Regions from separate parts of the Homo sapiens genome. Here all the other regions are reported to be linked to region 1. Evidence: microRNA targets listed by miRTarBase, many of them from high-throughput screens and not tested one by one. Region 1 holds a microRNA gene; each other region holds the end of a gene's coding sequence.

What was found. The annotated mature microRNA hsa-miR-6769a-5p reads AGGUGGGUAUGGAGGAGCCCU and lies in region 1 at 3,035-3,055, opposite strand. An mRNA with a match to its seed (bases 2 to 7 or 8) in the 3' UTR can be bound and repressed. Matches are read on the target gene's strand: a 7mer-m8 pairs with bases 2 to 8, a 7mer-A1 pairs with bases 2 to 7 and ends in A, and an 8mer does both.
Region 2: miRTarBase lists CYP4A11 as a target of hsa-miR-6769a-5p. Seed matches in the 3' UTR shown: 7mer-m8 at 3,546-3,552 and 7mer-m8 at 2,928-2,934.
Region 3: the mRNA of ZNF251 is a reported target of hsa-miR-6769a-5p. Seed matches in the 3' UTR shown: 7mer-A1 at 3,324-3,330.
Region 4: miRTarBase lists RBCK1 as a target of hsa-miR-6769a-5p. Seed matches in the 3' UTR shown: 7mer-A1 at 674-680 and 7mer-m8 at 1,449-1,455.
Region 5: miRTarBase lists ZNF561 as a target of hsa-miR-6769a-5p. Seed matches in the 3' UTR shown: 7mer-A1 at 1,436-1,442.

What each region holds. Positions count from the first base shown.
Region 1 is chr16:4,670,229-4,674,377 of GRCh38, reverse strand. It overlaps MIR6769A (microRNA 6769a), which reads right to left and starts at 3,060; the gene lies at 2,988-3,060. MGRN1 (mahogunin ring finger 1) reads right to left here. Exons shown (of 17, transcript NM_015246.4): 9 at 2,919-2,987; 10 at 721-880. RefSeq lists enhancers at 133-720, 721-1,310.
Region 2 is chr1:46,926,381-46,930,380 of GRCh38, forward strand. It overlaps CYP4A11 (cytochrome P450 family 4 subfamily A member 11), which reads right to left. Exons shown (of 12, transcript NM_000778.4): 12 at 2,808-3,930. The coding sequence ends at 3,735. Among named protein-coding and RNA genes, the nearest start is that of CYP4A11, 13 kb to the right of the region's middle.
Region 3 is chr8:144,717,852-144,721,851 of GRCh38, forward strand. ZNF251 (zinc finger protein 251) reads right to left here. Exons shown (of 5, transcript NM_138367.2): 5 at 3,058-4,000. The coding sequence ends at 3,793. Among named protein-coding and RNA genes, the nearest start is that of ARHGAP39, 34 kb to the left of the region's middle.
Region 4 is chr20:430,046-434,045 of GRCh38, forward strand. It overlaps RBCK1 (RANBP2-type and C3HC4-type zinc finger containing 1), which reads left to right. Exons shown (of 12, transcript NM_031229.4): 12 at 305-2,094. The coding sequence ends at 385. Among named protein-coding and RNA genes, the nearest start is that of RBCK1, 24 kb to the left of the region's middle. RefSeq lists enhancers at 1-425, 426-926.
Region 5 is chr19:9,606,821-9,610,820 of GRCh38, forward strand. It overlaps ZNF561 (zinc finger protein 561), which reads right to left. Exons shown (of 6, transcript NM_152289.3): 6 at 509-4,000. The coding sequence ends at 3,380. Among named protein-coding and RNA genes, the nearest start is that of ZNF561, 12 kb to the right of the region's middle.

The DNA of each region.
Region 1 (4,149 bases):
GGCGGAGTTTGCAGTGAGCCGAGACTGCAACACTGCACTCCAGCCTGGGTGACAGAGCGAGACTCTATCTCAAAAAAATAAAATAAAATAAAATAGCCAGGCATGGTGGCTCATGCCTGTAACACCAGCACTTTGAGAGGCTGAGGCAGGCAGATTACTTGAGGCCAGGAGTTCAAGACCAGCCTGGCCAACATGGCAAAACCCCATCTCTAATAAAAGTAAAATATTAGCTGGCCATGGTGGCAGTTGCCTGCAATCCCAGCTACTAGGGAGGCTGAGACAGGAGAATTGCTTGAACTCAGGAGGCAGAGGTTACAGTAAGCTGAGAACTCGCTACTGAACTCCAGCCTGGGCGACAGCACGAAACTGTCTCAAACAAAAAATAATAAAAATAAAATAAGAATAAAGATTTCATTCACTCATCAATTTTCGTTCAGTTCATCTGCCCTGGAGCGCCTCTGTAGCCCTTTGTTCTGCAAGCCTTGCCTGGCTGGAGGCAGACGTGAAGATCTGAATGCCCCGTGCTAGCGTCCCTGCCAGCTCTCTCACGGTGACTGACTCCGACAGCCAACACGCCCACGTTCAGCACAGACTAGATGAATGACAACTCTTCTTTCTTAGCCATCAACGGACCTGTGGCCCCCTATCCCAGGACCACCGTGGTGTGGCCAGTCCCTAATTTCCAGAACCTTCCACAGAACAGCCGGCCGGGGAACTCACGCAGCCGGCAGATGGGGCAGTTGTTGGCCTGGTAGCGCAGCGTGTCGGCGCAGGAGGTACAGAGGCACAGGTGGCGGCAGGGCAGGATCAGCGTGTCCCGCAGGTCGGACAGGCACACCACACACTCGTTGCTGTTGTCGCTGTTCTCGTCGTCCGAGGGCTGCCGGGACAAGGGCTTGTGGGTCAGCAGCCTCCCAAAGGCCAGAGTACGGCTCCTGCTTCCTGTCCCCAGCTGTCCCACCCCACTCCACCCTACCCTGGGGGCTGTCATGACAAAGAGAAGTCCAGAGGGGAGGGGGAGGTTGCCCCAGAGCAGAATCACCAGGCTCAAATCCAGTGCAAACTCAGCACCTGGCAGAGGGGGAGGGTCTGTGCCCCTCACCCACCCAAATCATGAGAACATGGTCTCTTTCTGTTCTTCAGACCTAAAGAAAAAATGAGGAACAGATGCACCTAAGAAACACATCTTCCTGAGGGTCAGGGTACCCGTTATCTTTGGTTTAAAAAAAACCAAGTTAATGGTCAGGCGCGGTGGCTCACGCCTGTAATCCCAGCACTTTGGGAGGCTGAGGCGGGCAGATCACGAGGTCAGGAGATCGAGACCATCCTGGCTAACATAGTGAAACCCCGTCTCTACTAAAAATACAAAAAATTAGCCGGGCATGGTGGCACGTGCTTGTAGTTCCAGCTACTCAGGAGGCTGAGGCAGGAGAATGGCGTGAACCCAGGAGGCGGAGCTTGCAGTGGGCCAAGATGGCTGCCACTGCACTCCAGCCTGGGCAACAGAGCAAGACTCCATCTCAAAACAAACAAACAAAAAAAACAAAAAACAAGTTAATATGTTAGAAGTATTTTCATTAATGGCAGCTACCAGAAACCACATTAGCAACTGGACAAAAAGAAAGCCAAAAATCTAAAACAGGTGTCCACAAACTAGGCCTGTGGCCTGTTTCTATAAATAAAATCTTACTGGAACACCGCCACACCCACTCATTTTTATACAGTCCCCGCTGCTCCTGTTGTAATGGCAGCGTGGAGTCAGTGCAACAGAGACCATATGCCCGGGCGGCTGAAAACATTCCCTCTCTGAACCTTTTCTCAAAGTGGGCCGCCCCCTGGTATGAAACATGAATGCACTGACTTCCCTGGGTTGAGGCGAGGCCCGGCCAGGTGCTCCGCTCCCGCCACGTGGAGCTGCTCCAGTTGTCCTGGGCCCAGATGCCATAATGAAGCGGGCCTGTGAGACTTTCCAAGAGATCTTAAGAGGCAGGAGTTTCACTCATGTCAGTGTGCCTTTTAACAAGTTCATCGACCAGGCGTGGTGGTCTCAGGCCTGAAATCCCAGCACTTTGGGAGGCTGAGGCAGGCAGATCACTTGAGATCAGAAGTTTGAGACCAGCCTGGCCAACATAGTGAAACCCCATCTCTACTAAAAATACAAAAATTAAAAATTAGGCTGGGCGCGGTGGTTCACGCCTGTAATCCCAGCACTTTGGGAGGCCGAGGAGGGTGGATCACAAGGTCAGGAGATCAAGACCATCCTGGCCAACATGGTGAAACCCCGTCGCTACTAAAATACAAAAAATTAGCCGGGTGTGGTGGCGCGTGCCTGTGGTCCCAGCTACTCAGGAGGCTGAGGCAGGAGAATCGCTTGAACCCGGGAGGCGGAGGCCACAGTGAGCCAAGATCTCCCTGCTGCATTACAGCCTGAGCAGCAGAGTGAGACTGACTCAAAAAACAAAAACAAAAAAAACTAATTTCATCCCCTGCTACATTCCCTGACTGGGGTACACCACGGCTTATTTGTCAGGCACCAGGACTGGTTCTATGGACATACAGAATAAGCATCCCTCCCCCAGGAGCTGCAGGGACGTGCTGTCTCTGGGGAGGCGGGCAGGAGCCGGGCAGCAGGGTGCCACACACCTGAGCCTAGAGGGTGAGACACTGGCCCCCATTCCTGGGCTGCCCTGGGGAACCTGGATGGCAATTTACATCAGAAGCTAGTGAATTTGCTGGAGAAAGGATAAAATGTTCCCTAAACTGTTAGCTTTAAAAAAAATTAAGGAAAAATGATGTTGTCTAGCGGGTCTAGGACTCCAGGGGAAGGCATGGAAGGGAACCGGCAAGCATTGCTGTCCGCGGCTGCTCCTGGTGTGGGCTTCTGTAATGGCAGAGGGAAACCTCACCCAGATACACACCTTGGTCTCCTGGTTGTTCTTGTTCTCAATGCCATAGATCTCCTGCAGGAGGTAGCTGACCCGGTCCACCTGGAGAGCAGAGAGGGGCTCACTGGGCCCTCGCCAACTGCCATATGAGGGCTCCTCCATACCCACCTGGCCTAGCCCTGCCTCCAACTTACCAGGCTTCCATACCAGGGGTCAGTCCAGCTCAACCCCTGGGGGCCAGGAGAAGGGCAGGGAAAACCTGCTGCTTGCCCCCACCCAACCAGCAGCACCTGGAACAGGGCTGGAGCCGGTGGCTCTCCCCACTACTGGGGGCCTGAAGCCAACCCACAGGCCCAACCACCACCCCCTGACCGCCTCACCACCCCCAACACCACTTGGCTCCACCACCACCAGCCCCACGAGGAAAGCAGGAGCTGACGCCTGAAGGCACCAGACAGCAGCCTAAGTTCCCACTGCTTTCCAGATCCTCCTTCCAAAAGGCATGAAGCCTCTCTGGTTTCAAAGACGCCAAAGCAATGTCTCCAAGCTGATTCTGTCCTGCCACCCACTTGCAACCAAAAAGCCTCACGCTGACCACATTGCAAAGCGGTTTGTGCTGCTGGGTTTCCCAGAGACCATGGGCCAGGAGCACCACTCCAGGGAGCCCAGGGCCTGCTGGTCAGCTCTCTCAACACAAGGCCCTGACCATCACTGGGGTCTCCTGTTCCCCTGGTACCTGCAGGGACCTGGACCTGCTAGAGTTTGCTGCACCTCTCTTTTGTTTATTGTGATTTACATTTTAAATAGACAGGATCTCGCTACATTGCCCAGGCTGGTCTGGAATCCCCAGGCTCAAGCAATCCTCCTGCCTCCACCTCCCATAGTGCTGGGATCATAGGCATAAGCCACTGCACCTGGACAAACTCTCTTCTAAAAAGCTAACAGATGGCCGGGTGCAGTGGCTTACACCTATCATCCCAGCACTTTAGTAGGAGGCCGAGGCTGGTGGATCACTTGAGCCCAAAAGTTTGAGACCAGCTTGGCCAACATGGCAAAACCTCATCTCTACAAAAAATACAAAAATTAGCCAGGCATGGTGGCGCGTGCCTGTAGTCCCAGCTACTCGGGATGCTGAGGCAGAAGAATCACTTGAACCCAGGAGGTGGAGGCTACAGTAAGCTGGGATCATGCCACTGCACTCCAGCCTCGGCGACAGAGTGAGACTCCATCTCAAAAATACAAAACAAAATAAAACAAAACAAAT
Region 2 (4,000 bases), not on the chromosome of region 1:
ACGCCAATTTACATTCACCAGTAATTCATAAGAGTTTCAATTTCTCCATATTCTGTCCAATATTTCATATTTTCCATTAAAAAATAATTATAGCCTTTCTAAAGGATATGAAGTGGTATCTCACTGTGGTTTTGATTTGCATTTCCCCAATGACTAATGAAGTTGAGCATCTTTCCAGGTGCACTTATGGATCACTTGCATATCTTCTTTGCAGAAGTTTCTATTGAAGTCCTTTGAATTTTTGAATGGGATTGTAGTATTTTGTTGTTGTGTGTTGGAGTCCTTTACATGTTCTCATTTGATTTGTGAATATATTCTGCCATTCTGTGGGCTATCTTTCAATCCTTCTATCCATTTTTTTTTTAGTTTGTATATCATGTATGTAAAACTTCAACATCATTCTTTTACATAGAGATATTCAGGTTCTCCCTCCTTGTGCACCTTCCCTATCTCTTTGATCACTCTGAGGTCTCCACCTCTCCAATTGCAATGAGACTTTCACTTATATGATTCCCTTCCCCTCATCTTTTCAACCAGGTATTAGGGGTAGTAATGGGAGTGAGTGCACACTGTCCTGTGGTCTTTGAGTATGGCCAACATGAGCCCTTGTAAATCCCCTGATGCCAGGTGACTGGCTGGCCATCCTGTCCATGAGGTTCCCAGGTCACTCTCCTTTCCCAGTGTTTCCATCTCCCTCCACTCCTGGCTGATTACCGACTGTCCAGCCCTCCCCTTTCCTGCCTGTTCTCAGAGCAGGGCTGAATTAATCCAATGACCGGGGAACTCAGGGGACTTGGAGGGAGGTCCTAGTTGCAGGCACAAACTAGAAGAGAAGCTCTTTCAGGGTAACAGAATGAGCTTTCAGACCTCAGGCAGAGGAATTCCTCTCTATGGCATCCAAGGTCCTGGGCTAGGAATGGGCAACAGGTGAGAGGAACACCTGGGTTCAGATTTAGGAAGAGAAGCAAGGTCTGCATTGAGAGAGGCTGGGACAATCAGTGACACTATCCCAGGGGTAGTACATGGGGCCTGGGTGCTGGAACAGGGCCCAGGGTCAGCACTACCAGCACCCAGGCAGTCACCAAGTGTGGACAGGGTTGAGGATGCCCCTACCCCATCAGGGTGGCCAGCCAGAGAGGCAGACGACAACCAAGAAGTTGTGCTGTTGGGAAGGAGCTGCTTGGGGTCTGACAGCCTCTTCCACCAGCCAGACCCATTTGCCTACCTGGGCTCCTCCCACCCCTGACTGGACAGCTGCCCACTCCATGAGCTTCCAGAGAAGCCTGCAGGTTCCGTATGTGAGGAAGGTTGACAGGTACCTGGTGACGTTGCTAGGCTGGGGTCTCTTTCTACACCTCACTGGGGCTGTGGATAGCTGAATTTACAAGATCCTCATGACAGACCAGGCCTTTGAGGCTTTCTTGCTCAGCTCAGTGCAGCCTCACTATAGCTGGGATGTGGGATGTTCCCAACCAAACTCCTGAAGCCTTGATCCCCAACACAGTAGTGTTGGGAGGTGGGTCCTAGTGGGAGATATTTAGATCGTGGAGACAGATCCTTTATGAAGAGATTAGTGCCCCCTTCCACCTCACAGGCTTGAGTTTTAGCTGTATCTGGAATGGACAGGTTTCCAAGACATCGGGATCAAAACAGAGTCTTGCTTCCTTGGTCTCTCTCCTGCTTCCTCTGTCACCATGCAATCTCAGCATATGCCACTCCCCTTTTGCTTTCTGCCATGTGTGGAAGCTGCATGAGGCCTTCATCTGATTTAGCTGCCAAAACTTAAACTTTTCAGCCACCAGATCATGAGCAAAATAAACTTCTTTTCTAGATCAATTACCCAGCCTTGGGTATTCAGTTACAGTAACACAAAACACAGCAAGGCAGGCCCTTAGCTCAGCCTTGCTGTGATTCATCTTGAATCTAAATCTTGAATGGAATGGAGGCCTGGAGTCTTTTCCCTACAGGTGTGAGCTTCTCCCTCTGATCTCCTAGATAAATATCGTTTGTCTAAACTCAGCTACCATGGGAGCCTCAGGAGCTGGAGAGGGTGTGGGCACCAGGGGAGACATGGTATGAGGCTGTGTGCAGGGGGATGGATCAAACCAGGCCCTGCTAGGGTTCTGGCACAATTGGGCACACCTCATCTCCATTTTCCCTCTTCAGTAGGGATTTATCTCCCTGCCTTAGTGTCTCCTCTTCTAACCCTATCACCTTCCATGTGAAGCTGGACAAAGCATGCAAGCTTGTGAACCTTATTCTAGAGAAGAGGGAAGATAGAGGGATTGTCTGGCTGACAATCACGTATGTAGGTAGGTAGCATACAGGAGAGATTTAGATGGACACATTGGATGACAATCCGGTAGGGGCTGTGCTAGGATGAACAATGGGTCTCCATGTTGTCCACATCCTAATTCATGAAACCTGTGATTGTGGGACTGCATATGTCACAATGGACTTTTGAGTAAGTAACGGATCTTGAGGTGGTGACATTATCCTTGATTATCTTAATAAGCTTGATGTAACTAACCACAAGGGTCCTTATAAGAGGGAAAGAGATGTGAAGACAGTCACAGAGAGAGAGATTTGAAGATGCCATTGGCTTTAAAGAGGAAGGAGGGGACCGTACCAAGGAATGCAAAAAAGGCAGCTCTGGAGCTGAAAAGCCAAGGGGCAGGGCTCTCCCTGAAACCTTCTGGGGGTGGGGGTCTGGCCCTCTCCAGAACTTGTTTTAATTCAGTGAAACCCATATATCTGACTTTGACCTCCATAACTGTAAGAGAATAAAAGTCGTTATTTAAAATCACTGAGATTGTGATAGTTTATTACAGCAGTAATAGGAAACTAATATAGGAACAGACAAGCAGGCAGGAAGAAGGAGACAGGTGTATGGGCAGACAGTCTGGAGGGCAGGCAGGAGTTTGGGAGGTGGGTGGAGATTCAGGGATGTTGGGGTGTTCAGACCCAACACCAGGTCGTGGGGGTGACAAAGTCCGGCAGAGTCAAAGCAGTGAGAAAAGACAGTTTGAGAGAGAAAGTGGGTCCAGGGCGCCAAAGCTAAGGATGGAGGCTGTGAAGGCCCCGAGCTCTGGAAGTGCAGATTATTTATTGGTGATCAAACAAAGAAACAGGTGGTGAGAATGTGGGGGTCGAAAGGGCATGTTGCATTAAGCACATGATTTACAGCTGTGACGGTTTAGCATCTGCTCTGCTACTTGAGATAATGGAGAGCAGGTTCTTTTAACTCAAGATACAATTGATCCTGGGAGAGCAAGGAGCGAGGAGGCAGCAAGTTCAGACACATTCCAGAGCCACGAGCCCTGGATTCTATCCAAGCCACGAGGGGTTTTATGCCCCGGGCTTAGATTATGGTGCGTCAGGGTAGCCTTCCACCCTTCAGCACAGAGCTTGGTGTTCCAAAGGCCACAAGGGGTTTTAGACCCTGGATCCTGGACATGATCCAAGACTCTTTTACATTATGTCAGACATGCAAGCTCGGCCTCAGCTTCTCCCAACACTCAGCTTTTCTCCCAACAAGAGATACAGGTGGGTAGGAGACAGGTAGACAAGCAGGTAGGGAGCCTGGAGAAAGGTGAGAGAGAGAAGGGCAGGCAGACTGGGGGACAGCAGGCAGGTGGGAAGAAGGGAAGGTGGGCAGACAGAAAACAGGATATGGGCAGACAGGAAGGGGACAGAAGCGGGGGTCAGGAAGACAGGACGGCAGGTGGAGGCCCTCAAAGCTGGTCCTTGTCTTCACAAGGGTTAGGGAGCCTCCTGAGACGCAGGTGGATTCCATTTTTGGATTTCAACACAAGTCGTGCAATGGGGATGGGGATCCTGGTGGGATCAGGCAGCAGCTCAAAGCGGAGCAGGGTCAGGGCCGTGGCCACCTTCAGCTCGTTCATGGCAAATTGTTTCCCGATGCAGTTCCTGGGCCAGGTGGAGATAATGAATTGAGAAGTGTCCTCAGGCCCCATTCTGATCTGAGCAGGTTTTGGCC
Region 3 (4,000 bases), not on the chromosome of region 1:
CAGGTGGGAAGCTCTGACTTTCATTTCGGTCTTCATTTTTACCCCTGAGGTGTTCCCTTGCTCTCTTGGTGCTTAACCATGCATTGTCCTACTAACATCCTCAGTCCCAGGGTCCACAGCAAGTACGTGTCACAACAGCCCTTAGAGCCACCCACAAGCCCTCCCATGCCCCGGTGCTTCCTTCCATTCTACGTAAATGTGAGGCCTGTGGGCCTCTTAAGGGAGGCATCATTGTGGGACCTTTCCAGTAGATCAGAAGGAGAAAACAATTTTAATGTACCCAGTGTGCTCATGGACAGAGCAGAAGCAGAACACAAGGTTCACATTTACGCAAAGCACATTCTTGGCACTGTTTCCTTTCTCTGCCTCCTTCACCTCTCTTCCTTCCTTCCCAAGTACATCCTAAGCACCTGTTCTGTATCGTGTGCTGGAGATAAAAAGGTGCATAAGACAACATCTCTGACAGCAGAGAGTTCTCCGTATAATGTAGGGTAACGAGGTAGAAAGGAAAATGTAAGTTGAAATGGTGGGGATATGAATGTTGTGCTGTGGGATACAAGGGTAAAAGAGTTATTTTTTAGACGTGGGGGAGGTGTTTTTTTCCCCCATTTTAGAGCTGGAGAAAAAGAGACCCAAGAAGATTCAGTGTTTTCCCTGAGGTCAGAGTGAATCCATTTCAGAGGGAGACAGGACCCTCCAGGTGAGCCTGTGCTATCCACTCCCTCTTTTGTGTGGACCATTCCACATGGACCACACTAAGGCTGGCAATTCCCACACTTGGAAGAGGTTCTGTGATAAGAATTTTAATAATAAAGTGGGGGAGACAGAACCTGAGCGGGGGAATAAGCGCAGCAAATCACAGAATGGATGTTAAACCAAATGTAGCGGTGACCCCAAATTCCCTAAGAAAACAGTAAGGCCAGGCGCCGTGGCTCACGCCTGTAAGACCTGCACTTTGGAAGGGCAAGGTGGGTGGATCGCTTGACTCCAAGAGTTCAAGACCAGCCTGGGCAACATGGTGTGACACCATCTTTACAAAAAATTAAAAAATTATCTGGGTATGGTGGTGTGTGCCTGTAGTCCCAGCTACTTGGGAGCTGAGGTCGGAGGGTTGCTTGAGCCCAGGAAGTCAAGGCTGCAGTGACCTGTGATCGCTTCACTGCACTCCAGCCTGGGTGATAAGAGTGAGACACTGTCTCAAAAGAAAAAAAGAAAACAAAGATGGAATGAGAGATTAACTAAGGTAGGCTCCTTGAAGGGGGGAAATATTTCAGTTAGACCTGGAGGGAATGAAAGGTAGATTTGAAAAAAGATTCTTGGCCGGGCACGGTGGTTCATGCCTGTAATCCCAGCACTTTGGGAGGCCGAGGCGGGCGGATAACGAGGTCAGGAGATTGAGACCATCCTGGCTAACACAGTGAAACCCCGTCTCTACTAAAAAATACAAAAAATTAGCTGGGCGTGGTGGCGGGCGCCTGTAGTCCCAGCTACTTGGGAGGCTGAGGCAGGAGAATGGTGTGAACCCAGGAGGTGGAGCTTGCAGCGAGTAGAGATTGCGCCATTGCACTCCAGCCTGGGCGACAGAATGAGACTCCGTCTCAAAAAAAAAAAAAGAAAAGAAAAGAAAAGAAAAAAGATTCTTGCAGGTAGAGTCTCAGAATTGAAAATCAGAGGCCGGGCGTGGTGGCTCACACCTGTAATCCTAGCACTTTGGGAGGCTGAGGAGGGCGGATTATGGGGTCAGGAGTTTGAGACCACCCTGGCCAACATGGTGAAACCCCGTCTCTAAGAAAAATACAAAAATTAGCTGGGCGTGGTGGCACGCGTCTGTAGTCCCAGCTACTCGGGAGGCTGAGGCAGAAGAATCGCTTGAACCTGGGAGGCGGAGGTTGCAGTGAGTTGAGATCGTGCCACTGCACTCCAGCCTGGGTGACAACGCGAGACTTTGTTTCAGAAAAAAGGAGAAAAAAAAAAAGAATTGAAGATCAGAATTTCACAGGTGATCACACTCTGAGAAACTACTACAGTGTTATTCAAACTTCCCAATGAAACTCTTTAAATAGATGCTTACTGATCAAACCATGGTCAATAGGAGAATGCAAATTAAAACCATGGATACCACTACATCTCCACTAAAATAGCTAGAATATTAAAAAATGGACAATACTGCTGGGCACGTTGGCTTATGCCTGTAATCCCAGCGCTTTGGGAGGCTGAGGTGGGTGGATCACCTGAGGTCGGGAGTTGGAGACCAGCCTGACCAACATAGAGAAACCCCGTCTCTACTAAAAATACAAAATTAGCCGGGCGTGGTGGTGCATGCCTCTAATCCCAGCTTCTCAGGAGGCTGAGGCAGGAGAACCGTTTGAATTGAACCCGGGAGGCGGAGGTTGTGGTGAGCCGTGATCGCGCCATTGCACTCCAGCCTGGGCAACAAGAGCAAAACTCCGCCTCGGAAAAAAAAAAAAAAAAAAAAGGACAATACCAAGATCTGGTGAGGATTCAAAGCAACTAAACTCACACATCATCAGTGGGGATATACAACTGACTTTGTAAAAGTTTGGCAGTTTCTTAAAATGTTAAACATAAGCTTACCATATGACCCAGCAATCCCACTCCTATTTACCCAAGATAACTGAAAAGTTAGATTCACAAAACAGCCTGTAGTTGATACACAGTGATGGCAGCTTTAATCATAGTTGCCCATACTGAAAATGCCCAAATACCCTGCCATGGGTGAACGGATAAACAAATGGCTCCATCCATACAATGGAATGCTACTCGGTGCAAAAAAGCACTCTACACAGGCAATATGGATGACTCCAATGCATCATGTTCAGTAAAAGCAGCCACGTGCAAACAGCTGCACACTATTTCTGGAAATGGTGAGGTGATGGATAGAGGATAGAAAACAAACCAGTGGTTTCCACGGACTGGGGTTGAGGAGGGGTTAACCACAAGAGAGCACAAAGGAATTCTGGGTGGTGGTGAAGATGTTCAATGTCTGGAATGTGGTAGTGGCACAATTGTATGTTTTTGTCAAAGCCCAAAGAACTATACACTAAAAAGAGTAAATTTTATTGTTTATAAATTATGCTTCAATAAACCTGCCTTTAAAAAATTTTTTATCAGTAATTACAATTTTCAAAAGTGGAGATACTTGGTAGGCCCCTGCTTTCTTGGCCCCTAAGGTCCCTCTCTCTGTTAAACTGTAGAGCTCCTTAGAACCAAAACCAAACCACCTTTCATTTTAATGAAAATGAAATGCAAAAACTGGGGCTCCAAGCAAGGAAGAAACGTCTACCTGCAGTTCATCTGGGGGTTGGTGGGAGAGGTGGTGGAGAGAGTAAGGCTAAGCGCCCCCAGCAGGCCCAAGTTCTCTGTACCACACTTGGAGGCAGGTATATGGGACTGAAAGTGGATGTTCTCAGCCACAAGCCTGGGCCTGGATAGGAAACAAAGGATAAGACTGGAAGGATGTCAGGTAGGGTAGACCCAGAGCACCAGCTGGGCTCACTTTTCACGCCCTCCATCCATTCGTCATGAGTATCCGGATACAGCACCACACGGTTCAACTCCTGAGCACAGCAGTAACCTTTACACAGACAGCCTGATTTCCCAGAATGAATTCTCGTGTTTACTTCCAGATTTAATGACTTTGACTTTAGTAGTCATCTGAACTATTTATTTTACTTTGCCAGTAATATTTAGACCTTATATATCTTTCATTATGCCATCTTATCTTCTAATGTCAAGTGAACAGTTGCTAAACTGTCTTCTGCATTTATCACATTAAAAATGTCTTTCTTGGAAAATCTTCTTGATATGAATAAAGTATCTTTTAGAGCCATCATTTAAAGCAGGTTTCTCTCCAACACGAGTCTGCTGAGGTGGTGTGAGCTGTGAACTCTGGCTGAAGGCTTTCCCATACACACTGCAATGACATGGTTTCTGACCAGTGTGAGTTACCTGATGTTGAATAAGGGTTGACTTTCCACTG
Region 4 (4,000 bases), not on the chromosome of region 1:
GTTCAGGTAGACTTTCAGACAGGTGGAGGCAGAGGAAACTGCCCTCTCGCATGCTGACATGTCTAGAATATGCAGAGTGGTCAGATCCTCTCCCTGGCCTGTTCCCGGATCTAGGCGTGGGTAGACTGAGTGCTGTGGGAGCCCAGAAAAGGCCTCAGTGACTCTCCATCAGGTAGCTGAGGCTGACCAGGCCATTCTTGCAGGAGGACCTGCAGAGGCAAAGGCCCGGGGTGGGAGAGCGCTCGGCTGTGGGGGCAGTCTCTGCACTGCGCTGACATTCTCTTCTCTTCCTCCCATCCTCTAGGGCCCAGGAGACACCAGCGGGGGCTGCCGCTGCAGGGTAAATGGGATTCCTTGCCACCCAAGCTGTCAGAACTGCCACTGAGCTAAAGATGGTGGGGCCACATGCTGACCCAGCCCCACATCCACATTCTGTTAGAATGTAGCTCAGGGAGCTTCGTGGACGGCCTTGCTTGCTGTAGCGTTGTAGGGGCCCTGCCTGCACTGCGGTTGTCCACGGTCACATCTGCCCCAGTGCCTTTGTCCTTCCCTTGGGGCTTGCCGGCCAGACTTCTCTCCCCTGCGGCTCCCACCTCTGCCTGACCCCAGCCTTAAACATAGCCCCTGGCCAGAGGCCTTGCTGGGTGGAGCCTCTGTGTGACTCCATACTCCTCCCACCACAACACTCATCTGTCAAACACCAAGCACTCTCAGCCTCCCCGCCTTCAGCTGTCAGCTTTCTGGGGCTAACTTCTCTGCCTTTGTGGTTGGAGGCCTGAGGCCTCTTGGAACTCTTGCTAACCTGTTCAGAGCCAGGAAGGAGACTGCACAGTTTTGAAAGCACAGCCCGTCAGGTCCGGCTCTGCGTCTCCCTCTCTGCAGCCTGTGTAAGCTATTATAATTAAAATGGTTTTCCGGGAAGGGATGAGTGTGATGTCCTTGAGAGGAAATGAATGTCCTGGCCTGGGACTCTACACACAGGCAGGATCCTGAGGTCTCTGGGAACTGCATCAGAAAGTTGACTTGTCAGTCCATCTGTGGTAGAATGAGGCTGTGACTGAGCACTGGGACCTTTCTACCAGATGTGGACCCCATGCCCAGCCTCAGGGGCAAGGATGCTCTTGGGTCACCGTCAGCCAGGACAGGTGGAGTGTGCAGTGTGTCAAGTCTGCAGAGAAGGATGGGCTTAGGGGCGGGAGGGGAAGTCTTGCCACTCCTGCTCCCTTTTGACCTCTCAGCAGGCATCTAGGGTTGGCAGGTAGATAGTTCAAGAAGGAACGAAGCTGCTGCAGTTGAGGGGTGGGGTTGTCCATCCTATTTTCTCGTCTCAAGCAAGATGGCACAGTATCGATTCAGCAGTATTTACTAGAACCCACTCTGTGCTGGTCGGAGGTTACTAAGACAGGGTCCTGGGATGTTCATTCTCTAAGTCTTTCCTCCGCTCTGTGACCCACCCTCCTTCCCCTTTTGAGATCTGGTATTTGATGCCCAACACATTGTCCACGCTGTGACGTGACCATCATCATAGCAGGCAGAGGGCGCCTCTGCTGCTGAAGGCCTGTGATTTTGTGGGGAAGGGCCTGTTCTAGCAACTGGAAAGGCACTGCCACCTGCCGTTGGATGCCAGGACTCAAGAGCTGGCCCCAGTCACTGTGCGCAGAGCTGTCTGAGAATGTGTGAGTGGACTGGGTCCTTCGGCACTGCCTGCATTGGCTCAGGGCAGTCAACCGTCGCAGAGGATGAGGGGCACACTCAGGCAGCCTCCCCGGCCCTGGAGGCAGAAAGGCCCAGGCAGAACCACTGACTGGGAGGAAACAGAAAAAGCAGAGGAGAGCCAGGCTGCAGGCGTGTGGATGGGACCAGCTCAGGCAGACGCTGTCTCATACCCACTCTCCCCTCTCTTGCCAGGGCCTGGCCTGGTGTCTCTCAGGAGCCTGGGCATGAGACAAAAGCAGAGATTGTTCTCTTGTGGTACCACAGGCTGTAACCAGTCCACCCAGTGTTGTTTTAGAAATTTAAATCGGTTGCCCATCTTTTTAAATTGGCAACATCGTTTACCACATTAAAATCTAGATGCCCTGCTTCTCTTGAAAATGTCAAAGCTTGGTAATGCCAGGTCCTCACTTCTACCTGGGGGGAATGGAGTCACAGAGATGTCAAATCTCTTCATGGGGTGTACACCCTCCAGTTTGCCACAGTCCTCACCACCCCAGGACTCACGCCGAGGCCTTTCCAGTGCCCTTGCACCATCCTTTTTCTCGTAAGAGGAAGATGAAGTGGGGCTCTACGCGCGGCGTATCACAGGTGAGGGCGAGACCAGCAGAGAGGGCTGTGCTGGCTGTGGCTTTGCTCGGCCTGCCCCATCCATGCTGCAGTGGTGCGGAGGAGCAGGGAGCTGTGTAGGGCCAACCCCGGTTCCTGCCTCAGCTCCACCCGCCTTGCACCTGCAAGTGAAAGGTCTTAAGACGAGCAGGCCCAGGGCACCCTCTACTGCAGGGTCAGGTGGAGGTGCCTCCACCTCCCAAGGCTCACCCATGCCAGGGGCCCAGAACTTGAGAGGCCAGCACCAACTCTCCAGGGCCGAACGAAAACCAAACCCCAGGGCTTTGGACTCAAACCATCGAGAGGAAGCAGCAAGAGGTCCCAAAGGTACTTGAGTGACACAATGATCATCATTCTCTCCTCAGGGGCAGGACAGGGGCAGGGGAAGGTGAGTGGAAGCCCATTGCTCAGATAAAGAGCAGCTGCCACGGAGGGTAGCCCGTCGGCCTATGCCGGCGCTCACTGGTGTCTTCCTCTAGTGCTTGGGGCTGGCATGGAATCTGCTCAAATGCAGGCAGCTGAAGGTGAGCCCGCAGCCTGGTGATCCCAAGTGCCAACCATGAGGAAGTCTGGAGAAAAGACCAGGGAGCAGGGGCCCTCGTGAGGAGCAGGAATTGGCAGCAGGGGCCACCAGCAGAACACCAGAGGGGACAGTGGCAGGGGGAGGAAGATACAGCCAGGCTGGGTCTCAGCCCCAGCTGAGGGTCTCACCTCTTAGCTGGTGAAGGCTCCGGCCTGTTCCTGCTTTCGGTCACCACTTCATCCCTGGGTGATCGTGGGCCCGGTGCAGGGCTGGCTACAAGTGTTTGTTGATTGGTAACTGCTCATGAAAATGGCAACAGCACTAGCACAGCTTCACAAATAGAAACACATTTCACCAACACCCTTGCAGGAAGCCCTCCAGGAGGGCCAAGACCATCCCTGCTTTACTGTTATGGACGTGAGCCTCCGAGAGGCAGTGACTTAGATGCTCACCCAGCCAGGAAGGAAGGAACACACTCGACCCTCAGTCTAAGACCCCATCAGGCCACTAATAATTCTCCCTCCAAACCCAGCTCAGGTCAAGGCCTATCTTCACCCCCAAATCATCCCTAAGGCAGCCTCAACTCTCCACAGCACTACAGCCATCCTGCCCGGCCCCAGTGCTCCACAGACCCTAAACCCGAGCCCTCCCGGGCTTTGTTGGCCCCAAACCACCTACACTTGTTACGTGTTATTTTTACACTGGCGTTTCCCCTCAGCCTTGCATACTGTGTGGTGTTGTCTGACACCACTTTTCCAGCTCTCTGACACCAACTGGGGCTAGTGTCAGGTTCCACAGATTAAAGGGCTCAGTCCCACACTTCCGATGGAGTCACAGATGGGGTGCCCAGGCTACCCACACTTCCTGGGCTACCCACACTTCCTGGGCTACCCACACTTCCTGGCCAACTACACATTCAGGGGTTCCCATGACTCCACCCCCTCAGGTTCAATAATTTGCCTGAGTGACTCAGAACTGAAGATCACCCTGCCCTGACGCTTCCTGGTGTGGTGTCCTCAAGGATGCAGTGTGGGCAGGAACAGCCACGCTTGAGATGAACAGGGTTAGGGATGGGAGCGACTGGCAGCCACTGCAATCTCAAGTTTTGGGGTTTTTTTTGTTTTTTTTTTGAGACGGAGTTTTGCTCTGTTGCCC
Region 5 (4,000 bases), not on the chromosome of region 1:
AAGGTTGATGTAACACTAGAAATGTAATAAATACAAAAACACATTTATTTTATTTTATTTCTGATGGAGTCTCACTCTGTCACCAAGGCTGGAGTGCAGTGGCACAATCTACACTTAATGCAACCTCCACCTCCCAGGTTCAAGCGATTCTCCTGCTTCAGCCTCCTGCGTAGCTGGAATTCCAGGTGCACACAACCACACCCAGCTAATTTCTGTATTTTTAGTAGAGATGGGGCTTCACCATGTTGGCCAGGCTGGTCTCGAACTCCTGACCTCAAGTGATCTGCCCATCCCTGCCTCCCAAAGTGCTGGTATTACAGGCATGAGCCACCACACCCAACCTGACCACATTTATTTTAGAGATGAGTCCTTCCATGCATTCATTCATTCGTTTTGTTTTTTGTTTTTTGAGATGTGGTCTTGCTATGTTGTCTAAGCTGGTCTAGAACCCCTGGGTTCAGGCCATCCTCCCAAGTAGCTAGAACTATAGACATGCATCACCACATCATTTCATTGAAGTATTTATTACATACCATCATTGGCCAGGAACAGTTCTAGGTACTTGAGTTCTAGCAGTAAATAAACATGATCATCACAGAGGATGCACAGGAAGCATTTAATAAATTCAAGAGGAATTCAGCCTCATGAATTATGAAATACTGGGAAATCATTCATCATGTAAAAACTGGATATAAAAAGAAACCTTTCCTGTAAGAGATTAGCCTCTTCAAAAAATAAAATAAAAACCTACAGCCAAGCCAATAAAATAGAGCACGTATCTCAGCAGAACTGCAGACAATTATGCTGGTATTACTGCTATTCATTGGTGGTGTGCTGGAGGTTGAAATTAGTCCAGTAAAGCAAGAAAATATATATATAGGTATAACCTAACGACTAAAGTGGAAAAGTAAGAGTCATTATTTACAGATTATGTGATTGTCTATGTGGAAACGGAAAAGAATCATATTAAGTACTTTGGACTGAATGATAACCCTGAAAATTCATATGTTGAAGCTCCAAATCCCAATGTGACTGTATGTGAAAATAGGGTTTTTTAGTTTTGTTTTTGAGACAGAGTCTCGCTCTGTTGTCCAGGCTGGAATGCAGTGGCTGCGATCTCGGCTCACTGCAACCTGTGCCTCCCAGGTTCATGCCATTCTCCTGCCTCAGCCTCCCGAGTAGCTGGGACTGCAGGTACCCGCCACCACGCCAGGCTAATTTTTTGTATTTGTAGTAGAGACAGGGTTTCACCGTGTTAACTAGGACAGTCTCGATCTCCTGACCTCGTGATCCGCCCACCTCGGCCTCCCAAAGTGCTGGGATTACAGGTGTGAGCCACCGCGCCCGGCCTGAAAATAGGCTCTTTAGAAGTATCGTGAAATGATGTCAAGAGATGGGTAGGGGGAGGGAGGGGGAGGGAGGGGAAGGAGAGAGATGGTGGGGAGAGAGAGAGAAAGAGGAGAGAGGAGAGAGGAGAAAGGAGAGAGGAGAGAGAGACCTATTTGTTGGTTTCCTTCCTGTGAAGACATGAGGAAGTGGGCATTTACATACCAGGAAGAGAGCTCTCGCCAGAAGTTGACCATGCTGGCACTCTGATCTCAGACTTCCAGCCTCGAGAAATGTGAGAATATAAATTTGTTTTTAACCTCATTTATTTAAAATTAACAAATTTGTAAGCCATTTGGTCTGTGGTATTTTGTGATAGTGGCCTGAGCTCATTAAGGCAGATTAAAAACAAACAAACAAAAAAACTAAAAATGTGAAGCAGATTTGAAACTGACAAATGAGGCTGGAAAAATTCTGATGTGCAAGCTGGAAGTAAGGTTGGTAAGGGTGATCCTGGTGAGGTGTCATTGGGGAATGAGGAACATGCTATTGGGAAATAAAGAAAATACAACCCTTGATACGAAGTAGTGAAGAACTTGGCAGAACTGTATTCTAGCACTTTGCGGAAGGTAGAGCTTGAGAGAGATAAAACTGGTTATGTATCACTAAGATCTGTACTTAAAGTGTTAAAGGACACAGGAAGCTTCATTCTTCCTGAGTGCTTACAGGAAAATGTGCTCAGAACAGGCCCCCCAAATTTGGACATAAACAGGCCATGAGAAACTGCCCATAAACAAAATCTCTGCGGCACTGTGACATGCTCGTGATGGCTATGACACCCATGCTGGAGGTTGCTGGTTTACCCGAATGAGGGCAAGGAACACCTGGCCCACCCACGGTGGAAAACTGGAAAACTGCTCAGGCATTCCTAAACCACAAACAATACCATGAGTGATTTGTGCCTTAAGGACATGTTCCTGTTGCAGATAACAAGCCAGAGCCTGTCCCTTTCTTTCTTGTAAGGAATACTTTTAGCTAATCTATAATCTATAGAAATAATGTTTATCACAGGCTTACTGTCAATAAATATGTGGGTCAAACTCTGTTCAAGGCTCTCAGCTCTGAAGGCTGTGAGCCCCGATTCCCACTCTGCACTCTATTTCTGTGTCTTTGTCTTAATTCCTCTAGAGCTGCTGGGTCAGGGTCTCCATGACCCAGCTGGTCTCAGCAAAAATGCAAAAGGAGACCTGAATTGCAGAAAAAATTGTTAAGGAAAAAGGAACCAGAACTTGGAGATTTGGAAAATTCTCAGCCTATCCATAATGCAAAAATTAGAAAACTTGTACTGAAGAGAATCCTCAAAGTGTGGCTGAACGATCATCTGATAAAGAGATCATGAGTGGGATTCATGGACTATATCAGCCACCTTGACAGAAGTGAGAAGAGAGACTGGATTATACTAGAAGAGACATTGCCACTTACATTGTGCCATCTAAAATAGACATACAAGGCAGAACAGGCAAGGCTGTCACACTTCTTAGATTTTACAAGGGGACACAGAAATAATCAGCTGTGAAAGGGCACTGGCAGTTATGGATGGTTTCATTCCTGACACGCTCTGCAGGATCCGTGGGATCAGAAGAGACCCTTGGAGGAGCATCTCTTAACAACCCACCTTTGGGGTCCTACATCATCTTGGCTTCTGGTAAATTTTGACATAAATGTGCCACACTGGCAGCCACTAACCAACAGGGGCTGGGGTCAATCTGCATGATTTATCTCATACACAACTTGTTAATGCTATGATCTTAGGAATCTAATCACCAAGGTGAGGCAGCCTGCAGTACTGACCTCACCATCCATGACCCTTCTTCACAGATGCCCAGACTCAGGCAACCATGATGTTGTATTCAGAACCTGTAGGTTTAATTTCAGACCCTCAGGATGGTATCTAAGGCCAATCCATGAGTCATTACAACCTCCAAAAGGCATTTAGGACAAATCTGATAATCTTTGGTGTCATTGCCAATAATTAAAGATGGCAACCGATGGGCTAAATGGTAACACTCATATCCTTGCATTCATAGGGTTTCTCCCCAGTGTGAATTCTTTCATGTCTACTTAGGCGTGAGGAAACAGCAAATGCTTTCCCACATTCTTTACATACGAAGGGTTTCTCTCCGGTATGAGTTCGCAGGTGAACATTAAGGCGTGAGGAATATAGAAATGCTTTCCCACATATCTTGCATACAAAGGGCTTTTCTCCACTATGAGTTTTCAAATGTTTACTACGACGGGAAGAAGTAATGAAGGTCTTCCCACATTCAACACATTCATAAGGCTTCTCTCCTGTGTGAATTCTTGTATGCTGAATAAGACTTGTGGATGTAGTGAAGGCTTTCCCACATTCCTTACACTGATAGGGTTTCTTTCCACTGTGACTTCGTATGTGTATAGAAAGGCCCGAGTACTGAGCAAAGGCTTGGCCACATTCCTTACATTCATAGGGTTTTATTCCAGTGTGAGTTCTTACATGTTCAGTAAGTTGAGTTGATCTAGTGAAGGCTTTCCCACAGTAAGTACACTTGTGTGGTTTTATTCCAGTGTGAATTTGAATGTGATCATTAAGGCATGAGGAATTTCTAAAGGATCTTCCACATTCTTTACATTCAAA